3 separate regions of the Homo sapiens genome follow, and regions 1 and 2 are each linked to region 3. A link means that fine-mapping ties the variant in region 3 to the plasma level of a protein whose gene starts in the linked region. Region 3 holds a variant in brackets. A gene starts in each other region. All regions are shown on their forward strands.

Region 1 (6,514 bases), not on the chromosome of region 3:
GGTTCACTGAAACCTCCACCTCCTGGCCTCAAGTGATCTTCCCATCTCAGCCTCCTGAGTAACTGGGACTACAGGCATGCATCACCACACCCGGCTAATTTTTTGTAGAGATAAGTTCTCACTATATTGCCCAGGCTGGCCTGGAGCCCCTGGGCTCAAGCAATACTTTTTCTTTGGCCTCCAAAAATGCTGATATTATAGGGGTGAGAGTAGTGCGATACTTTTTTTTTTTTAAATGAGTTACAATCAGGGAGATTGCACTGCAAAAGAAGAGGCTATTGCAATGGTCCCAGTGAGAGTTAAAGAGGGACAGGTTTGGTCTGGCATCAGTGGGAATGCAAATAGGGGAGGTGAATATGAGAGTTGTTGAGGATGCAGAACTATACAACTTGTTGGTAGCAAAGCCCAGATGTTACAAGCTATTACAGCTAATACATTAGTTCCCTTATGTTTCTGGACGGTGGTGGTGTTAGTGGTGTGGCACAGATATTGGTAGCCCAGCTTAGGGGTGGAAAAAGAAATACAGTGAGAAAAGAGGTTGTCTCTAAGCCAAAGAGCAAATTATGAATATAGACAAGAAGGGACCCAGGACATCAACACTTAGAATCCAAGCATATATTTAATTTAGACTACCAATTGCCATTATTTTGAGTAAAATATTAGCATTAAAAATAAAGTACGACACTTAAAATTTTTTAAAAAGTCTATTGGATCAGAGATGAGTTATATCTCTACAAATAGTGAGGATTTGCTCTGTATTTGACTTCATGAAGTTTCTGATTTACTTTTTAATCAAAAAGATTAGACACCTTGAAGACAATATAATGAATGTCATTTATAAAACCACTGTGTGCCTACTCTCTAGGTTTAGGTCCAGGGTTTTTTCTAAACACAGTTTTTTATGTAGTAAGTCATTTTGATTTTTGAGGATTTGATCAATAAGCTTCTACTTAAAGATCTCTGAAGATGCACATTCTAAGAGCTGGTGGCTAGCCCAGGAGAGTCTGAACTATTTTAGTTGCATTTTGAAAAACAGGTAATGAAAAGAAGAGTAAGGACTGGAAGCCACATAAGGTGGTTAAAAGGTATAAATGGACGAAAATCCAGACCTGCTCCTTAGCCCACTAAAACTTTTTTTTTGTTTTGTTTTTGAGACAAGTCTTGCTCTGTCACCCAGGCTGGAGTTCAGTGGTGTGATCTCAACTCACTGCCACCTCCACCTCCTGGGTTCAAGAGTTTGTCCTGCCTCAGCCTCCTGAGTAGCTGGGATTACAGGCACATGCCAACATGCCCAGCCAGTTTTTGTAAGTTTAGTAAATATGGTGTTTCACCATGTTGGCCAGGCTGCTCTTGAACTCTCGACTTCAAGTGATCTATGCGCCTCGGCCTCCCAAAGTGCTGGGATTACAGGCATGAGCCACTGAGCCCGGCCATAGCCCGCTAAAACTTTGACAAACATCAGTGCAATTTAACTATAAGTTCCCAATCAAGAGCTACTCCTCTGAGATCTATCTGATTGAAAATACCCCACCAGAAAAACCTTATCCTCATTTTCTCAGGTCCTAAAAGTTAATTAAAGCCACTCTCTGAACTTGAAGCAAAATTTACACAGGCAGTTTGAGGTTTCTGAATCTTTGGGGCCAAATGTGCTCAGAGGAAAAGGAAGAGGTCTTGTCTTTGAAATATTAAAAACCATTCCAGGGCTGGGGCCTTAGCACTTCGCTGTAGAGCTCAAGCCTAATTTCAGGGTACCAAGAGAGGGGCTTCTGAACATAAAGCCCAGGAGGCAATCGAGAAGGGTTCTTACCCTGGGATCCACATGGAGGTCTGGGAACCTCCTGTGGTTGTCTCTAAAGGTTGGTGTTTATGTCGATGTTTTTGCTTTCATCTGGGAAAGACAAGTTGTAACTTTCATCAAAATCTCAAAGAACTCTCTGATCCAATAAGTTCATACCTTTGAAATAGAGGAGGATGCCAAGGAGAGTAGAAGGAAGAGAGGAATAACTGCTCATTTAAGTTAACCAATTCAGAAGTATGACATGCAAAAAGACAGGACAAAAGTAATTCATATCCTTAGGTCATTGTGGTTCAAACTTAAGACAGGCTCAAACTCCTTCCTCTTCTCTTTATCATACTCTTATTCCTGTTTTCCCCAACACAGAAACCCACATTATAAGTACTTGAAAAGTGTGCTATAGTAAAGCAAAGCAGTAGGATGAATCAGGTGTATGCGGTACTTTTTTCTGGAGTCCCACAGAAAGGTGCTCAAAAACAGAGACCTGCCTGGTTCCTCCATAGCCACAGACTGCAGGATTTCGGACCCTGGGACTATGTGGGATACTCTTGGAAAGTCTGAGGAAAATTGGAAGTAGCTTAACCATGTGCATTTTATCTAGGTGCATATAACATTGCTGAGTTCAAAATGCCTAGCTATCCTTGGATCTTCCCTGAATTAGAAGTAGCCTAACCACGTGCATCTTATCCATGAGCATATAACATTGCTGAGTTCAAAATGCCTAGCTATCCTTGGATCTTCCCTGAATCCTAAACCCCACTATTCCTAAGAATTTTCTTTTTATTGTAACAATAATGGCTAACATTTACTAATCACTTACTATGTGTCAGGCTCAGATCTGGATGCTTTTCAGCAAAATCTTATTTAATCCTCATGATGAAACTATAGAGTATTATTACTATATCCATTTTATAGAAGAAGAAACTGAGTCATTAACAAGATTGAGTCTTAGGGCAGAAAAGGAAACTATGTGGATATTCCAGATCAGTCCCAGAAGATTCATAGGCTCACAGAAAGAAATGGGAGGGATGGGGATGAGAAACTATTCAATTGTAAGCTTGTCCCAGGGCACCTACCCAGTCTTCCATTTATTCCATCATTTATCCCAGAGAGAAGTACAGTCTTGGAAAATGGGGTGACAGGTTTACCATGATCTATTCTCAGAGAGCCCCTATAAATTCTAGTAGGAGGAACAGCAGCTGCGGAGCCAGAGGACAGGCCCCAGATCCCAACATCATGTAGCCTAACAGTGAAGCTTAGATAAAACACAGCCTCTGTAAACCACGATGGCTTTATTTGTAAAATAGAAATAGCAACCTCAACTCACAAGGGTGTTGGGAGGGTCAAAGTGGACAGCAAGTTTAAAAGTACTCACAAAATCTAATAGGCAATTCAACATAAAACTCCATGGCTATCGCTGTTCCTCACTTTCTGAACCTTTACCTGCCTGACTTTACTCCATACCACTCCAACTCACTTCAACCACTTCCCATGCAGAAAAAAATAAACTCACCATCTCCTCTGTGACTCTGCTGGTTTTCTGCCTTCTGCCCAACCCAGACTGCTTACAGTCTCACTGCCTCCCCTCAGTGTCAGGCTGTTTAGAAAAACAACTTCCTATTCACATTCCAGAAACTCACCACAGCCCTTCCCATGAAGTTAGAATGTTGATAATGCAAGAGTAATGTTGGCAGCTTAGAAATAGTGGTTGCCAAGAGGCAAGGGGTCACCCCCTTCCATGGAAGATGGTCTGGAGGCAGGCGCAAGGTGAATTACTCCTGGATATCCCAGGCTGAGCAATGTGGGAACAGTACACACACAAAGGTTTCCTTGGATTATGATATAAGCTCCAATTTAAAGTAGTACATTTGGAAAACATGCTTTGAATTAATTACAATGTGATTTTCCAGTGCCCATTTTCCAGTAATTATGACATGTCAGTGAATGTTTACTATTCCGGCAGCCTTCTGAGGGAAAGAAGCAAAATTAGTAGCACAAAAAAAAATAGAGAGAAATGGAAAAAGCCACTAACAGTTTTCTGGCGCTTGGGAAATTTTATTGGTAAGTTTCAAAATGACGTATTAAATAGACATAGGTCATGTGAAAGGAATTCTGCTTCTTATATCAGAAATAAAAAGGTATACAAATAGATACCTTTTTATTTTCCTCTTCCCATGGGATGTGTAGGACCAAAAAGCTGTTGGCATAGTGGTTAAGACTTCAGCTGTGCTGTTAAACTGCCCGAGACCCATCCTGGCTCCTCTTCTGGCTATCTACTGGGCAAACTACTTAAGCTCTCTATGCCTCTGTTTCCTCAACTGTAAAACAGAATAACAGAACTTGCCTCACCGGGTTGTTGTAGGATGAAATGAGTTAATATGTACAGAGTGATTGAAATGACACTTGGCCCACAATTGATGCTCAACAAATGTTAGTGATTATTATTACTTTTCAGATTGATCTCAGACAGCAAAATCAAGTATCAAGTATTTAGTTTCAAGTCAGAAAGCCATAACTCCTATTTATACTCTTGGAATTCTATTGTACAGTAGTAGGTATTATTCTTCATTCACTTCATGATGGTTACAGCTTGTAAATAGGCATCTCATGGATAAATTTAAAATGGAATGAAGTAGAAACATTGGAAGAAAGTCTAAAGGTAAAGATGAATTAGGGTATATAAGGCTGCATTTGCACGTTGGAATTTGGGACCAAGAAGAAAAAATTAATTATATAGTAGAAGTAGAAAAGATGGTGAAGGAAATGCTGTTGAAGGAATGACTGTAGGGGAATAAGGGAAACTTAGAGAGAGGAAAAAATGAGGAACTTCTTGGCAGCATGATGCAGTTCAGAGTCCAGACCCTAGAGTCAGACTGCCTGGCTCCACCACCTACCAGCTGTGTTGGGCGTTACTAATCTCCCTATAACTCAGTTTCCTCAGTGATGTGGTTTGGCTGTGTCCCCACCCAAATCTCATCTGGAATTGTAGCTCCCATAATTCCCACAGGTTGTGGGAGGCACCTGGTAGATCATTGAATCATGGGGGTGGTTTCCCCCATACTGTTCTCATGGTAGTGAATAAGTCGCATGAGAGCTGATGGTTTTATAAGGGGAAACCCCTTTTGTTTGGTTCTCATTTCTCTCTCTTCCCTGCTGCCATGTAAGACGTGTCTTTTGCTTTCTACCATGATTGTGAGGACTCCCCATCCACGTGGAACTGTGAGTCCATTAAACCTTTTTTTTTTTAATAAGTTATCCAGTCTCGGGTATGTCTCTATCAGCATCATGAGAACAGAATAATACACTCAGCAATGTGAATAATAAGGATAATAATCACCAAATACATAGACATGTAAGGACCATTAAATGAATTTAATGTGTTTGGAACAATACCTATCACGCTGTTAAGTGTAAGTTTAAGTGTTGGCTATTATTCTATAAGACTTGCCTCCATGTCTTTCTGTTCTTACTTTCACTCACCAGCCCCTCTTTTTGGCATTGCCTCATGTTAGAAAAAATATATATAGTCTCAGATGGGGATGAGGAAGTGTGGTATGTAGACTAGTAGGTTCTTTTTTTGAGACAGGGTCTCACTCTGCGGCCCAGGCTGGAGTGCAGTGGCATGATTACTGCTTGCTCCAGCCTTGACCTCCTGGGCTCAAGCAATTCTCCCACCTCAGCCTCCTGAGTAGCTGGGACTATAGATGTGTGCCATCACTACTGGCTAATTAAAAAAAAAAATCTCTAGAGATAGGGTCTCTCTATATTTCCCAGGCTGGTCTTGAATTCCTGGGCTCAAGTGATCCTTTCACCTCAGCCTCCCAAAATGTTGGGATTACAGGCATGAGCCACCATGCCCAGCCTGGTAGTTTCTTATTTATAATAAGTTTGATATTAATAAGTTCAATTGATCATATGTTTTTAAGTTTGATATTGTTAAATTTTAGTGAATATAAGGAAAGCATAAAAAGATTCCTATGCAGGTGACATTAGCAAGATGGTGGAGTAGGAGATGTCAGCCTTATGCCCCAACAAAAAAACAAACATAGACAGTTATACACAAACCAAAATAGCCCTCACAAGGGTGGGGAGTTGGGGGATGGGGCTCAAGAGCCTGTTAAAGAATTTGGAACAACACAATGGAGAAAAGAAAGAATATCCATGTAGAAGAATCACCGGTGAGACTGGCATATATGAGACACCAGGAGATAGCTACGAATAAAGAAATTTGTAGGCTATCTGTGTCAGTCATGTGACACAGAGCCACTGAGGCCCCCAGTGTCCTGCTCCACAGAGGACACTGGCATCTTTTATCCAACAGCCATTCCCATAGCAGGATGCTAAAAAGGGAAACACAGTTGCACTACCCCTCACACCCCCTCACCAAGAAGCAGCTATTGTTGCACTGCCCCAGGACTGGGGCCAGGGTTACCACCTCTCACAAGTCTATGTGTGTTCCTGATCCCCAAAAGTTGTGGCTGCTCTACAGATATTCACACTCTGGACTGTGGCTCTGTGGCTGCAGTGCACCTCCTCATGTCTCAGACACTGGAGTCACTGCTGTTGTGAACTAGATCTCACCCTGGGACCCCAAGCCAAGTTCTCTCTGTGAAAGTCTTTGCTCCAGACACTAGTTCAGCCACTGTAGAAAGGTAACCCATATTCTCAACTCCAGAGCTGCTGTAGTAATGTGCACACCTGCGCTCCAGACCCTGTCTC
Region 2 (6,514 bases), not on the chromosome of region 3:
TGTGGCTGCTCAAACCCCAGAAGCCTGGCCCAGGACCCAGGGAAGGAGCTCAGGCCTCCAAGCTTACTGTCTCCCCACCCTAGTGGGCTCAGCTAGAGACTTGCACTGTGCATCAAACACAGACCCCGGCCCACAGCCCCTGCCAATGGGCAGCCCTAGGCAGCCTTGCTCTCTGGATTGGACACAGTTCATTAGACCAGTTTGGCCACATGACTCGGGGGAAGCCAATCCTAGAGCTGGCCAGGACTCCACATTGTAGCCTGCTGTAAAAAGAGGTCCATGAGATGCGGAAGTCAGAACCACGAGAAGGCAAGAAGTGATGTGGACCAGAGGCCCCGGGCCAGAAGGGGCACGCCAGGAGGAAGCTGTACCGTGAAGCAGCACCCACCCTGTGGTGGCATTATCTGGGGAGGATGTGGGCATGTCCCAAAGCAGCTGGCTCCCAATGGTGCCTGCCGTGTGCCACCCTCTTGACAACAAGCCACACCCCCCTGGGAAGCCTAAGCTGGCGTCTATTCCTTGTCCTCAGAGGAGCCTCAGCCTAGCCTGGACTGGGTGCCCAACTCCCAGCATGGAGGCCCCAGCCACAGTGGGACCACTCACTGCGTCCATCCCACTGCTGTGGTTCCTACTTCCCCACCAGGTCCGACTGTCATTGCTGAACTGGACCTTGTATGATGTGACCCAGTCATACCTGGCAGGAGAGGTGGAGAGAGATCATCGGTGCCCCCAGGACTCCCACCCCAGTCCTTCTGTGACCTCCTGACCTAGGGTTAGTCTGCCTCACCTCCAGACAGAGTTCCTGCCCTGTGTGATAACACCCGAGAAGCGGGTGGGGTGCCCAGCGTCCACCTGAAACCATGGATCGGCGTCCTGCTCCTCAGCACACCAGGCTCCATCATATAGATCGCCGTCCTCCAGGCCTGACTGCAGACACAGGACATGGTGGTCAGGCCCAGTTGGACAGAGTGGGGCAGGCCAGGACAGAGAGGAGGCAGGAGAGAAGCTCCCAGGGGCTGCCTTCCCTACCCTGAGACCATGGCTCCGAGCCAGGATTACTGACCTGAATGTTGAGCCGTCCTCGGTGTGGTCCAAGACCAAAGGACTGGCTGCTGGATGCCTCAAGCCGGCTATCTGAAACTCGCAGGGACTCCAGACCCAAAGGAGGACAGCCTGGGGCGGGGATAGAACAGTGAGACAGGACCAGAGGGAGGGTAGCCAGGGCAGGTGGGAAGCTGAGCCTAAGGTTGCTCCTGCGCTAGGCAAGCAAGGGGCGTGCCGGTGCCCATGAGGCCAAGAGCTGTGCTGGTAAAGTGCCCCAGGGGCTGCAAGTCTGGGCTGGGCCCCTGGAGAGGAAGTACCTGTTTCTTGTTTCTCAGCGGGGTCGAGGGTCCCTGCTGGAGTGGGGGTCACAAGGGGCCCGGCAGTCACCAGTGGGGTGGGGCGAGTTAGAGTTAGCTTCTTCCGCTTCTTCATAATGACCTTTTTCTTCTTGATGACTCGAATCCGGACATGCTGTTCTGAGGTCCCTTGGGGTCCGAGAGGCACAGCATGGGGGAAAGGAAGAATGGTGAAACCCCGGATGGAAAGGTCTGCCAGCCCAAGAAGACATGTGAGCCCACAGCAGGCCACACCACCAGGATCTAACAGCCTTCACAGGACATCAAAGGCCTGCAATCTGACCCCAACCTGCCTCTCCAGTCACTTCCTTGGCTCCTCCTTCTCCTCCCTGATGTAACTACATGCTTGGCCAGCCTCCCCTGTGAACCTCTAATCCAATGGAGAGCTGCACCCAGCCTCTAGAAACTGTTCGGTTGCTCCAAAGAGCTGAGTCTGGCACTTTACCTCCGGGCCTCTGCACTAGCTATCCCCTCCCCTGTAATGCTACCCCTCGCCTCTGATTTTTTCACCTAATTCCCATTCTTCCTTTGCATCTCAGCCCAGATGCCTTTCCAAGGAGGCTTTCTTAGCTCCAGACTCAGCATCATGCCCCAAAACCCCTGTGCCGCTTCCATTGTTGTGTCTGCTCTCTGGGCTCAGATGGCCTGTCCTGGAATCCATGTCTGCCTGGGTGTCGAGGCTTTCAGGGCTGGGCCTGCCCGCCGGCCCTTCAGCACAAGGCTCTGCCCAGGCAGGTGCTGGGGGTACCCATCGAAGCTCCACAGCTGCCTCCAGAACAGGCTGCCCATTTCCGCATCTGGTGCCCCTGTGCCTTTGCCCGCCGCTTCCTTCTTGGCAGCCCTCTCTCTCTCTCTCTCTCCAGACTCCCCTGACTCGGGGACATCACCCTTCAAGACCCTCCTCCACTTGCCTCCTCTAGAAGCCCCTGAGTGCCCTCCGCTTGCGCTCCTCCTCTCCTATTCCACATCTGGAAAGCTGGGAGGTCGGGCTGCCTTCCTCTCCCGCTCTGCCCCATCCTCCCGGCAGCCTCAGCGAGGGGCTCTCCCTTCTTTCCTTTTGTTCTTTCTCTCCAGCCCTCGCCTTCAAACTCTCTCCTACGCAGTCTTGCTCTGCACCTTGAGAGCTTCTGCCCCTCTGTCTCCCCTCCTGCCAGTTCTGGCCTGTTTTGTCTTTGGTGAAAAGGGAAGGTTTGGGGCTTGGAAGAGGCAGCATCCCACTGGCGCCTGTCCTGGGACTGCTGACTAGGTCTGGCAGGGAACTGGGGCTGCCGAGTCAGCAGCCATTGCTCCCAGCAGGGAGTTGAGGGAGTGTGAGTGTGTATATGTGTGTGTGCACTGTGAGTGTGAGTGTGCGCGCGCGTGCACTGTGTGTGCGCGCACGCGCGTGTGAGTGTGCGTGTGTGTGCATGCGTGTGAATGCGCGCGCGTGTGAGTGCAAGTGTGCGCGTGTGTGAATGTGTGTGAGTGCGCGCGCGTGTGTGCGCGTGAGTGCGAGTGTGCGTGCGGGGTGAGTGTGCATGACTGTGAGTGTGCGTGGGTGTGCGTGTGCCCGCGTGTTAGGGAGGGATCGCCCCACGGGGCAGGAGAGCCGGGCAGTCGGCTTGCGGGGGAGCGGACCGTCGGTCGGGGAACTCACCGTTAGCTGTCTCCGCCGGCGGCTGTGCCGGGCTGCTATGCAGGGCCGGGGTCGAGCCTGGGACCTTGGTGGTCCCGGGCTGCGCGAGGCCCAGCACCGAGTTCCTGGGCGCCCCCAGAGCCGGGCCGACGGCCGGCGCGAAGGCGGCCAGGGCGAGCAGGAGCCCCCACATGGCGGGGATTGAGTGCCAGGGGCGCGCGGGCTACGGCGGGTGGCGGGTCGGTCTCTTCCTGCCGAGTGCGCCGAGCCCCCCGCCCCTTCCTGCCCCCCGCCCCTCCGCAGCCTCCTGCCCGCCCACAGCCCGCTGCCCGCCTCGGACCTCGGAGAGGAGGAGAGGGCCGGGAGGAGCGAGCGGGGCTGACCTCCAAGGGGCCGCCCCAAGTCTCAGGACCGCCGACTCTGCCCTTCCTCTCCGCCGTCTGGGGCCAACCCGCCTCGTTGGCGCGCTGCGCCTTTATAGTCTGCAAAGCCACACTGAAGAGACCAGAGATCACCTGGTGGCCATCAAGTCGACCAACAGGAGGCAAAGCCCCTTATCTGAGCAATTCAGAATGACACTTCCCTATTGTCTAAAGCCACATCTGGTACCAAGCTTCCGTCCCAAGAATTTATAAGTAACTAGAATTTCTGTACGTTTCCGGAATGAGTGCACGTTAAGACCCATTGTGCAAACTTTGCTGACATCAAGGCACCAAAATATCGACAAATGTAACCATTTACCATGACCTAAGTGACTAATGTGGTCCAAATTACCCTGCAGTTCCCCGCAGGGAGCTCAGTCCTCTCTTGCTGAAGCGCCTACTGCGCTCTGCTGCCTCGTCCTTTCCGTCTAATAAAACTTTCCTTTTCAGACCTACACGGTTGTTGATAAGTTCTTTTACCACCCGGGAGCCAACCACTTCCCGGTTCCGGAGCTCTGACACCTCGCCTGGCATCTTGGTGGCCCATACGGGGACTTCACTGGGATTTCCCTCTTCCTTTTTCTCTCTGCTTCCTTCCACGGTCTGGTTCTTTACTCTTTGGGGAACTGCCGGTCCCGGTGGAGGCAGCTCTTCTGTGGGATCCTGAAGCCCTAGAGAAGGGATACCTGGCTGTCCTTGCCCTTAGGGGTGAGGGACTGGCCAGGGCTCTTTTCTGTTTTCGGACTGCCAGTGAACCAGCTTGAGTTCTCGTTGGCAACTGACAGTTTCTGGCCAAGCGCCATCCCCCGGTATTACCCCAAGGCCAAGACAAAAGAGCTATTGCCTGTCAGAGTGGCAGGGCACTTTCATTTTAACACTCCATAAGCCTTGTCCTGGAAGCGGTGGATCTCAATTCTACACAGGGATGCCTCAGGGATCTTGTAGTTCCTTGTCTAAACCCAACTTCGGTTCAATTAATTCAGTTCCATCCAACTCGCCCTTGGATTGCCTCCTTAAAAATGGTCCCATTGGTCTCATTTTGACCCACAAACTCTTAAAAATAAGCATATAAGGCTGAGCACAATGGCTTATGCCTGTAACCCCAGCACTTTGGGAGGCCAAGGCAGGCAGATCACCTGAGGTCCGGAGTTAAAGACCGGGAGTCTACTAAAAATGCAAAACTTGGCCGGGCACAGTGACTCACACCTGTAATCCTAGCACTTTGGGAGGCCGAGGCGAGTGGATCACCTGAGGTCAGGAGTTCGAGATCAGCCTGGCCAACATGGCGAAACCCTGTCTCTACTAAAAATACAAAAAAAAAAAAAAAATCAGCCAGGGGGCTAATTATATGTGGCGGGCACATATAATCCCAGCTACTAGGGAGGCTGAGGCAGGAGAATCACTTGTACCCCGGGGGCGGAGGTTGCAGTGGGCCAAGATGGCGCCACAGCACTCCAGCCTGGGCGACACAGCAAGACTCTGTCTCAAAAAATACAAATAAAAAATAAATAAGAGTTTAAAAAGCATATCCTTTTTTCTAATATTGCTTGGGTTCAATACAAGCTCCCTAATCAATCAATTTGGCCAATTAATGAAACTTGGGATTGCAATGCTACTTTACAACTTAACTGATTTTTTGCCGGAACCTTGGAAAGGATTCAGAAGTCCCATATGTTCAGGTCTTTTTTGCTTTATCCCCAAATCCAAACCCAAAATTACATACAAATTGTCATGTATGCTTCCAAGGAACGTCCTCCCTTCCCGGTTCTGATGTCTTAGATGATCCTTCCTTTTGCCTATTACATCCTCCTCAACCTGCTCACTCTTCACCTACACCCTCTCCATCTGCTCCATTCCCTAGTCAATCTCCCACCCACATACCCAAATACTTTCTCCCCTTCACATACTCTCAGGGGAGTCACATATGCTACTAGTACAGAGTCCTCAGAAAAATCCCCAAAATATTTTGCCTCTCCCTAAGGTGGCTAATGAAGATTTGGGAACAAGCCAAGTTCATGTCCCTTTTCTGATCATGTCTGATCTTTTGCAAATTCAATCCAAGTTGGGTTCATTTAGTCAGGATCCCTCTAAGTTCATTCAAGAATTTCAGACTTTAACTGTTGCCTTTGATTTAACCTGGCAAGATGTATTTGTGGTATTAACTACCTGCTGTTCCCACACACAAAAAATCACACGTGTGATCTTCAGCATGGGCAGATGAAGCTCATGCTCCCAGTCCTAATAACAGAGCTGGGCAGAAGCTGTCCCCAACATAGAACCTATTGGCAATACCAGGCCACCAATTCTGGCCCAAACAGAGGTAAGGGCAGACAGGATCATATGGTAACTTCTCTGTTGGAGGGAATGAAAAATATATAATAAAACCTGTTAATTTTTCTAAATTATAAGAAATAATAGCTGGGCGCGGTGGCTCACACCTGTAATCCCAGCACTTTGGGAGGCTGAGGCGAGCGGGTCACCTGAGGTTTGAGACCAGCCTAGCCAACACGGAGAAACCCCATCTCTACTAAAAATACAAAATGAGCTGGGCATGGTGGTGCATGCCTGTAATCCCAGTTACTCCAGAGGCTGAGGCAGGAGAATCGTTTGAACCTTGGAGGCGGAAGTTGTGGTGAGCTGAGATTGCGCCACTGCACTCCAGCCTGGGCAACAAGAGCGAAATTCCATCTCAAATAAAATAAAATAAAAAGAAATAATAATTTTGTATGTATGAAACTATCTGAAAGCCCTGCCCTTTTCCAAGCTAGACTGGTGGAGGCCATGCATAAATACACAAATTGAGACCCCAGGGGCCAGGTGTGGTTGCTCACACCTGTAATCCTAGTACTTTGGGAGACCAAGGCGAGGCGGGCGGATCACCTGAGGTCAGGAGTTGGAGACCAGCCTGGCCAACATGGTGAGAACCTGTCTCTACTAAAAACACAAAAATCTGTGGGCATGGAGGTGCATGCCGGTAATTCCTGCCTTTTAATGCTTATATCTTCCAGCTTACAATGATTCCACCTACAGATGACTATGCAATCCCAATACCAGCCTGCAACAGCAACTTCTATTTT
Region 3 (6,514 bases):
TTGCCCAACCTGCCTGAGCCTCAGTTTCCCCTTCTGCAAAATGGAGTTGATGATAATGGTAGTTACTTAGGGCTTTGGGAGAGACCGCTGAGATGATGGACAGAGAGCACTCGTCACGTGGTTGATAGACCCTGGATCTGCAGAGCTGCTGCTGCTGCTGCTGCTGTTGGGAGTTTCAGAGCTGGGGCTCCTTGAGGGATGTTCCTGAGAGGAAGATTCTGGTAGGACCCACCTGGGACAGGGTGAGATCTGAGCAGGGTGGGGAGGAGAACCCACTGGACCAAGGCATGGCTGCCCTTTACAAGGGCTCCCAGGACGAGGACAATCTCCTTTAACAAAACCTCCTGCCAGTCCCCAGAGCTTCTTGGCCATGAGCTGAGGAGTTTTTATTTGTTCCTTTGGTCTTTTATGGCTAACTCTGGATTCCTCTTGGGTGGATGGGGAGGCAGCCTTGGTCCATTGTAGAACTGGGTACTACTGCAAAAGTGCCAAGTCCTTGCTGTAATCTGCTCTCTGGAGAACAGACCCTGTGGGCAGGGGAAAGGCCCATTGCCCACCTCCTGGTGTCATGAACACTGTTTTTCTCAGTGGGAGGAGGTGGAGGTACCCAAAGAGGAGGAAGTGGCCTTCCAGGTGCCACTTACTTGGTTTGGTGTCAGCTCTGTTATTGATTCACTGTGTGACCTTGGACAAGCTCCTTGTCTGCTTTGAGCCTTAGAATTTTATGTCTGCAAAATGGGTATAATAATGACTCCTCTGTCGTAGGGTGGCTGGCACGAAATGGGATAATTTAGGTGAAGCAGTTAATATACTACCTTACGTACAGCTAACACTTAGTAAGTAGCTGTTATAATAATAATGAAGATGGCCGGGTGTGGTGGCTCACACCTGTAATCCCAGCACTTTGGGAGGCCAAAGCGGGCAGATCACCTGAGGTCAGGAGTTTGAAAGCAGCCTGGCCAACATGGCGAAACCCCATCTCTACCAAAAATACAAAAATTCGCCGGGTGTGGTGACACTACTTGGGAGGCTGAGGTATGAGAATCGCTTAAACCTGGGAGGTGGAGGTTGCTGTGAGCTGAGATTGTGCCATTGCTCTCTAGCCTGGGCGACAGAGCAAGACTCGGTCTCAAATATAATAATAATAATAATCATAATAATAATGATAATAATTGAAGATAATAGGAAAACCATGTTATTACCTATATTAGTGTCCTGTGGTTGCCATAACACAAGTGCCACAAAATGAGGGACTTAAAACAGAAATGTACTTATTCCCTTGCAGTGTGGAGCTTAGAAGTCTGAAATCAAGGTGTTGGTAGGGCAGTGCTCCCGCTGGAGGCTCTAGGGGAGGATCCTTCCTCTCCTCTTCCTGGCCTCTGGTAGCTGCTGGTGACCCTGGGTGTCCCTTGGCTGGTGGATATTGGCACTCCCATCTCTCCCTCTGAGTGTGTCTCTGTCCAAATTTCCCTCTTACAAGGACAGTAGTCTTGGGTTAGGACCCACCCTAATCCAGCATGAGCTCATCTTGACTACATCTGCAAAGACCCTATTTCCAAAGAAGGCCACATTCACACATACCAGGGACTGGACTTCTATGTATGTTTTTGGGGGATGCAGTTCAACCCCCAACATTACCCGTTTATACTTTCTTTCCAGGGCCACCAAGGACAAGACCAGAGTCATTTTCATCCTGAATTGGTGTCAACTAGTGTTTTCATACCCTAGAGACTATCCAAATGACACAGCTGACCCAATCCCTGCATTTCTCAGAGGGGGAAACTGAGGCCCAGGGAGGTAAAATGACTCTCCCAAGGTCACACAGTAAGGTAGTGGCAGTGGGACTGGATCGTGGATCTCCTGGTGCCCTGTATTGGCCCACGTGTCAGCCATGGACTCGTATTCCCACTGGTGGAGCCAAGAGGTTTTTGCTGTCTGCAGGGGAGAGCACTTTGGATCTTGGCTTCTCGTTTCATCCTTCCCTTGGTAGTGGTTAAGAGTGCAAGCTTTGGGCCGGGCAAGGTGACTCATGCCTGTAATTCCAGCACTTTGGGAGGGTGAGGTGGGTGGATCACCTGAGGTGAGGAGTTTGAGACCAGCCTGGTTAACATGGTGAAACGCCATCTCCAACAAAAATACAAAAGTTAGCCGGGCATGATGGCACACTCCTTTGGTCCCAGCTCCTTAGGAGACTGAGGCAGGAGAATCGCTTGAACTCAGGAGGCTGAGGTGCAGTGAGCTGAGATTGTGCCACTGCACTCCAACCTCAGCAACAGAGCAACACTATGTCTCAAAAACGAGTGCAAACTTTGGAGCCTGGCCATTCAGGTTCAAGTTCTGGCTCAACCATTGTGACCTTGAATGAGTCAGTGACTCTCTCTGCTTCAGCCTCCCCACCTGTGGAAGGAAGACAGTCATCTCAGCCTTACATGAGTGCACAGGTGTCAGGACCCCTGCTGTGCACACGGGCATGTACTCAGTGTTTCTGTGCATGTGGTTTCCCTTCCCTTTCCTCCTGTTTGGTTTTCTCTGAAGCCGAAAGGTCCTTAGTAGGAAGTTGAGGACCAGCGTTCTCCATGGGAAGACTCAACATCAGTTACAACTCTAGAATTTATTCCAGGCCATCCAAGTTAAGGTAGTTGTCTGTATTTTGAGAACCTTTCTCTTGCTGTAAAAAGCAAACAAAAACAAAAAAAGACAAACTAGCAAACTCAAAGAACGAGAATACATATACATGCAGTGCTGCTTCAGATGGAAGTCAGAAAAGTGTGTGATCAAATGAAAGGCTGTTGTTGAAAGGGAAGTCTGCATTTACTCTTCTGCCAGTTCTCAGACTACCTCAACTCCTTGCTGACATTCCTAGGAATTGTGGTCCCAGCTGGCTTCTATAGCTGTGTGACCTTTGCCTTTTCCAAA[C/T]GAGTGGGCACCCTGCAGGCCACTTCCTCTGGGTTTCAGTGCCCAGCTTATCAGGAGGCTGCATGAACATCTATTTCTAGCTGGGCGGGAAATAGGACGGGTCCTGGCAGAAGGCGGAGCCCAGAGGTGGCTGGTAGAATCCCCTGGGAGGAGTAAGGGATGCTCTCCGCAGGGACCCCCGTGTCGTGGGTGCCATGGCAAAGCGTTAACAACAGGCAGTGCCTAGGGAGCCTGAACCAAGGTTGGGAGTGTGGTTTCCTTCTCAGTTCCCTTTCCGTCTTCCTGATTATGACAAGAACATCTGTTTGGTACCAACATGTGTTTTTTTTTTTTTTTTTTCTCCTTGATGCTGTGCATTTTTTTCCATTGGAATTTTTGTTGAGATAATTGAAGAATCACATAAAGATGTAAGAAATGATACAGAGAGATCTCATGTGAACGTTACCCAATTATCCCCAATGGTAATATCTTGCAAACCTGTAGTGCAGTATCACAGCCAGGATATTAACATTCACAACATTCATAGAACCCACTACCAGTCTTATTCAGATTTTCCCCCATTTTCCTTGTACTTGTGTGTATTTAGTTATGTACAATTTGGTCACATGCATAGCATCCTATATCTGCCATCATAGTCAAGAGACTAAAGCAATGTAATGATTTCTTACACCAATTCCATTTCCAAAATTTTAACATGTCTGTCTTTGAAAGATACTAATTTTCTTTTTTTTTTGAGGCGGAGTCTGGCTCTGTTGCCCAGGCTAGAGTGCACTGGCTTGATCTTGGCTCACTGCAACCTCTGCCTCCTGGGTTCAAGTGATTCTCTTGCCTCAACCTCCCAGCTTCCCAAGCACCTGGGACTGTAGGCACCTGCCACCATGCCTGGCTAATGTTTATATTTTTAGTAGAGATGGGGTTTCACCATGTTTCCCAGGCAGGTTTTGAGCTCCTGGCCTCATGTGATCTGCCTGCCTTGGCCTCCCAAAGTGCTGGGATTACAGGCATGAGCCGCCGTTGCCAGCCTGAAAGATATGAAATGTCTTTATTAAAATATAACTTGCAGACATAAAAAAGAATGAGTTCATGTCCTTTGCAGGGACATGGATGAAGCTGGAAGCCATCATTCTCAGCAAACTAACACAGGAACAGAAAACCAAACGCCGCATGTTCTCACTCATCAGTGGGAGTTGAACAATGAGAACACATGGACAGAGGGAGGGGAACATCACACACCAGGGCCTGTCAGGGGGTGGGGGCAAGGGGAGGGAGAGCGTTAGGACAAATACCTAATGCCTGCAGGGTTTAAAACCTAGATGATGGGTTGATAGGTGCAGCAAGCCACCATGGCACAGGTATGCCTATGTAACAAACCTGCACGTTCCGCACATGTATCCCAGAACTTAAAGTAAAATTAAATATATATATATATATATATATATATATATGTAAATAACATAGATGTGGTAAAATGCACACATGGTGCATGTAAGGCTCAAGGCTTTAAGCATGGGTCCACCTCTGTGGCCATTCCTCGGGTCCCGGTGACCCAGTCCTCTCTTTAGGTGACACCACTCTGACCCCATCAGTGAGTCTTGCATGGCTAATTGGCTTTGTGCCTCTCTTAAAGGCTTCTCATTTCCCTTTATGACTCACAGAACCAAGCCGAGGGTTTTGCTTCCAGCAGACAACTATTTCTAGGTAGAATTTAATCATATTGTCACGTTTCCACTGATTTTATTATTTTGCAGTTCCTATTGTATATGGTGAGTGTTACTGGTTTTCTTTTTGCCAAAAACATAAAATCACTCTTAACATACATCAGTTCAGGTGAAAACGGTGAGTTGATTTAAAGAAAACTATCACATAAATAGTATCAGCAGTAGGCAGATACAACAAACCTTATAAGGTTGATAAACAAATGTTTGCAGTTTGAGAAATAATGTCATATGGCTCCAAACCACCCCCCAAAACTGGTCAATCCATGTGTGAGGAAAAAAAAAAATCTCTATATAGTCTTTGTATAATGAGAGTTTTCTGTGTAATTTTGATACACAGTACTGGTTTAAAGAAAAGCAGAATTAGCCTATTAAAATATTAATAGGCTGTATATAAAGTAATGAGCCCTTCCTTTATTGCCTTAATAATTTTTGTTATATTTGCATACCATGAGTACTATTTTATATCTAATACTTATTTTAATATTGATTCACTATTTTTAAACTTAATTTTATATAGAAAAGAAACTTGATTTCATAGTTTAGAGGTGCCAGGTATGTATTTTTTCAATATATTTTAAAATATACTACAGTTAAGACATAACAAAGGGTGGGCACCATTTAAATTTAATTACCAGCAGGAGGGTGAAAAACACCAAGTTTAAATGGCACCAAAATGATGAACATTTAGGCTGGGCATGGTGGCTCATGCCTGTAATCCCAACACTTGGGGAAACCAAAATGGGAGGATCACTTGAGGCCAGGGATTTGAGACCAGCCTAGGCAACATAGTGAGACCTTGTCTCTACTAAAAAGAGAAAACTTAGGTAGGTGTGATGGTGCATGCCTGTAGTCCCAGTCACCTGGCTTTGGGAGGCTGAGGCAGGAGGGTCCCTTGAGCCTACGAGTTCAAGGATGCAGTGAGCTGTGATTGTGCCACTGCACTCCAGCCTGGGTGACAGGGCATGACCTTGTCTCCAAAAAAACTTAAAGAATTATTTGATGGCCCATGCTGGGGGTGTTAGTGGTGAGCACATAAAGCTCCTCATTTTCTCATTGTCTCCTGAGTTTGGAAATGATTGAGAAATGAAACATCGGCAATCAACGAAGGGCGATGAGATGGCTGCCTGGAGAGCATGCTTAGAATTGAGCCCTGACAGCTGGCCCCTGAGCTGCCCACCCTGTCATGGCCTGGGTGGATGCCCATAGGTGTCTCAGAGCAGCAGTCCCAGACTTTTTTGGCACCAGGGGCCGGTTTTGTGGAAGATAACTTTTCCATGGGCCAGATTGGCCTGGGGGGATAGTGTGAGGATGATTCAAGGGCATTACATTGATTGTGTACTTCATTTATATTATGATTACATTGTAATATATAATGAAATAATTATACAACTCACCGTAATATAGAATCAGTGGGAGACCTGAGCTTGTTTTCCTGCAACTAGACAGTTCTATCTGGGAGTGATGGGAGACAGTGACAGATCATCAGGCATTAGATTCTCATAAAGAGTGTACAACCTGGGTCCCTCACATGTGCAGTTCTCAATAAGGTTTGTGCTGCCATGAGAATCTAACGCCGCTGATGATCTGACAGGAGGTGGAGCTCAGGCAGTAATGTTCGCTAGACCCCTGCTCACCTCCTGCTGTGCGGCTCGATTCCTAACGGGCCACAGACAGGTGCCAGTTCATGGCCTGGGGATTGGGGACCCCTGTCTTGGAGGCAGCTCCCTTCCGAGTGGCAAGGAACAGGGCAGGGCACGTGGTCCCTTGGGGGTGGATCCAGCTAGAACAAGATGAAGAGGCTGAGTATCCTCAGTTCCTTTTTCCAGGGAGTGGTCCCTTCCTCCCTTGGGGATGGGGAGTCCCAGAGGGGAGAGAAGCAC

Which allele goes with the higher level. Positions count from the first base shown, and alleles are read on the strand shown. Strength reflects both the effect of a copy and how common the allele is.
For the plasma level of the protein whose gene starts at base 3,361 in region 1, C is the low allele of the variant in region 3 and T is the other (weak association).
In carriers of allele C in region 3, the plasma level of the protein whose gene starts at base 3,263 in region 2 tends to be lower than with T alone (weak association).

The links. PIP is the chance, under the fine-mapping model, that this variant and not a neighbour inherited with it causes the effect. Protein levels are from antibody-based Olink assays in UK Biobank. Linkage for the fine-mapping came from a reference panel and not from the study's own genotypes, which makes the PIPs less certain.
Region 1: it holds the start of SELP, and the variant in region 3 is fine-mapped to the plasma level of the SELP protein (UK Biobank, PIP 0.98).
Region 2: it holds the start of CPXM1, and the variant in region 3 is fine-mapped to the plasma level of the CPXM1 protein (UK Biobank, PIP 0.92).

What each region holds. Positions count from the first base shown.
Region 1 is chr1:169,626,764-169,633,277 of GRCh38, forward strand. It overlaps SELP (selectin P), which reads right to left and starts at 3,361. Exons shown (of 17, transcript NM_003005.4): 1 at 3,309-3,361. The coding sequence starts at 3,311.
Region 2 is chr20:2,797,365-2,803,878 of GRCh38, forward strand. It overlaps CPXM1 (carboxypeptidase X, M14 family member 1), which reads right to left and starts at 3,263. Exons shown (of 14, transcript NM_019609.5): 1 at 3,037-3,263; 2 at 1,362-1,529; 3 at 1,064-1,173; 4 at 788-927; 5 at 604-694. The coding sequence starts at 3,208. RefSeq lists enhancers at 845-1,832, 1,833-2,820, 2,821-3,806.
Region 3 is chr16:81,834,448-81,840,961 of GRCh38, forward strand. The region is part of intron 2 of PLCG2 (phospholipase C gamma 2); the gene reads left to right. Among named protein-coding and RNA genes, the nearest start is that of PLCG2, 58 kb to the left of the region's middle. RefSeq lists an enhancer at 2,536-2,725. The variant C/T (reference allele first, on the strand shown) is at 2,917.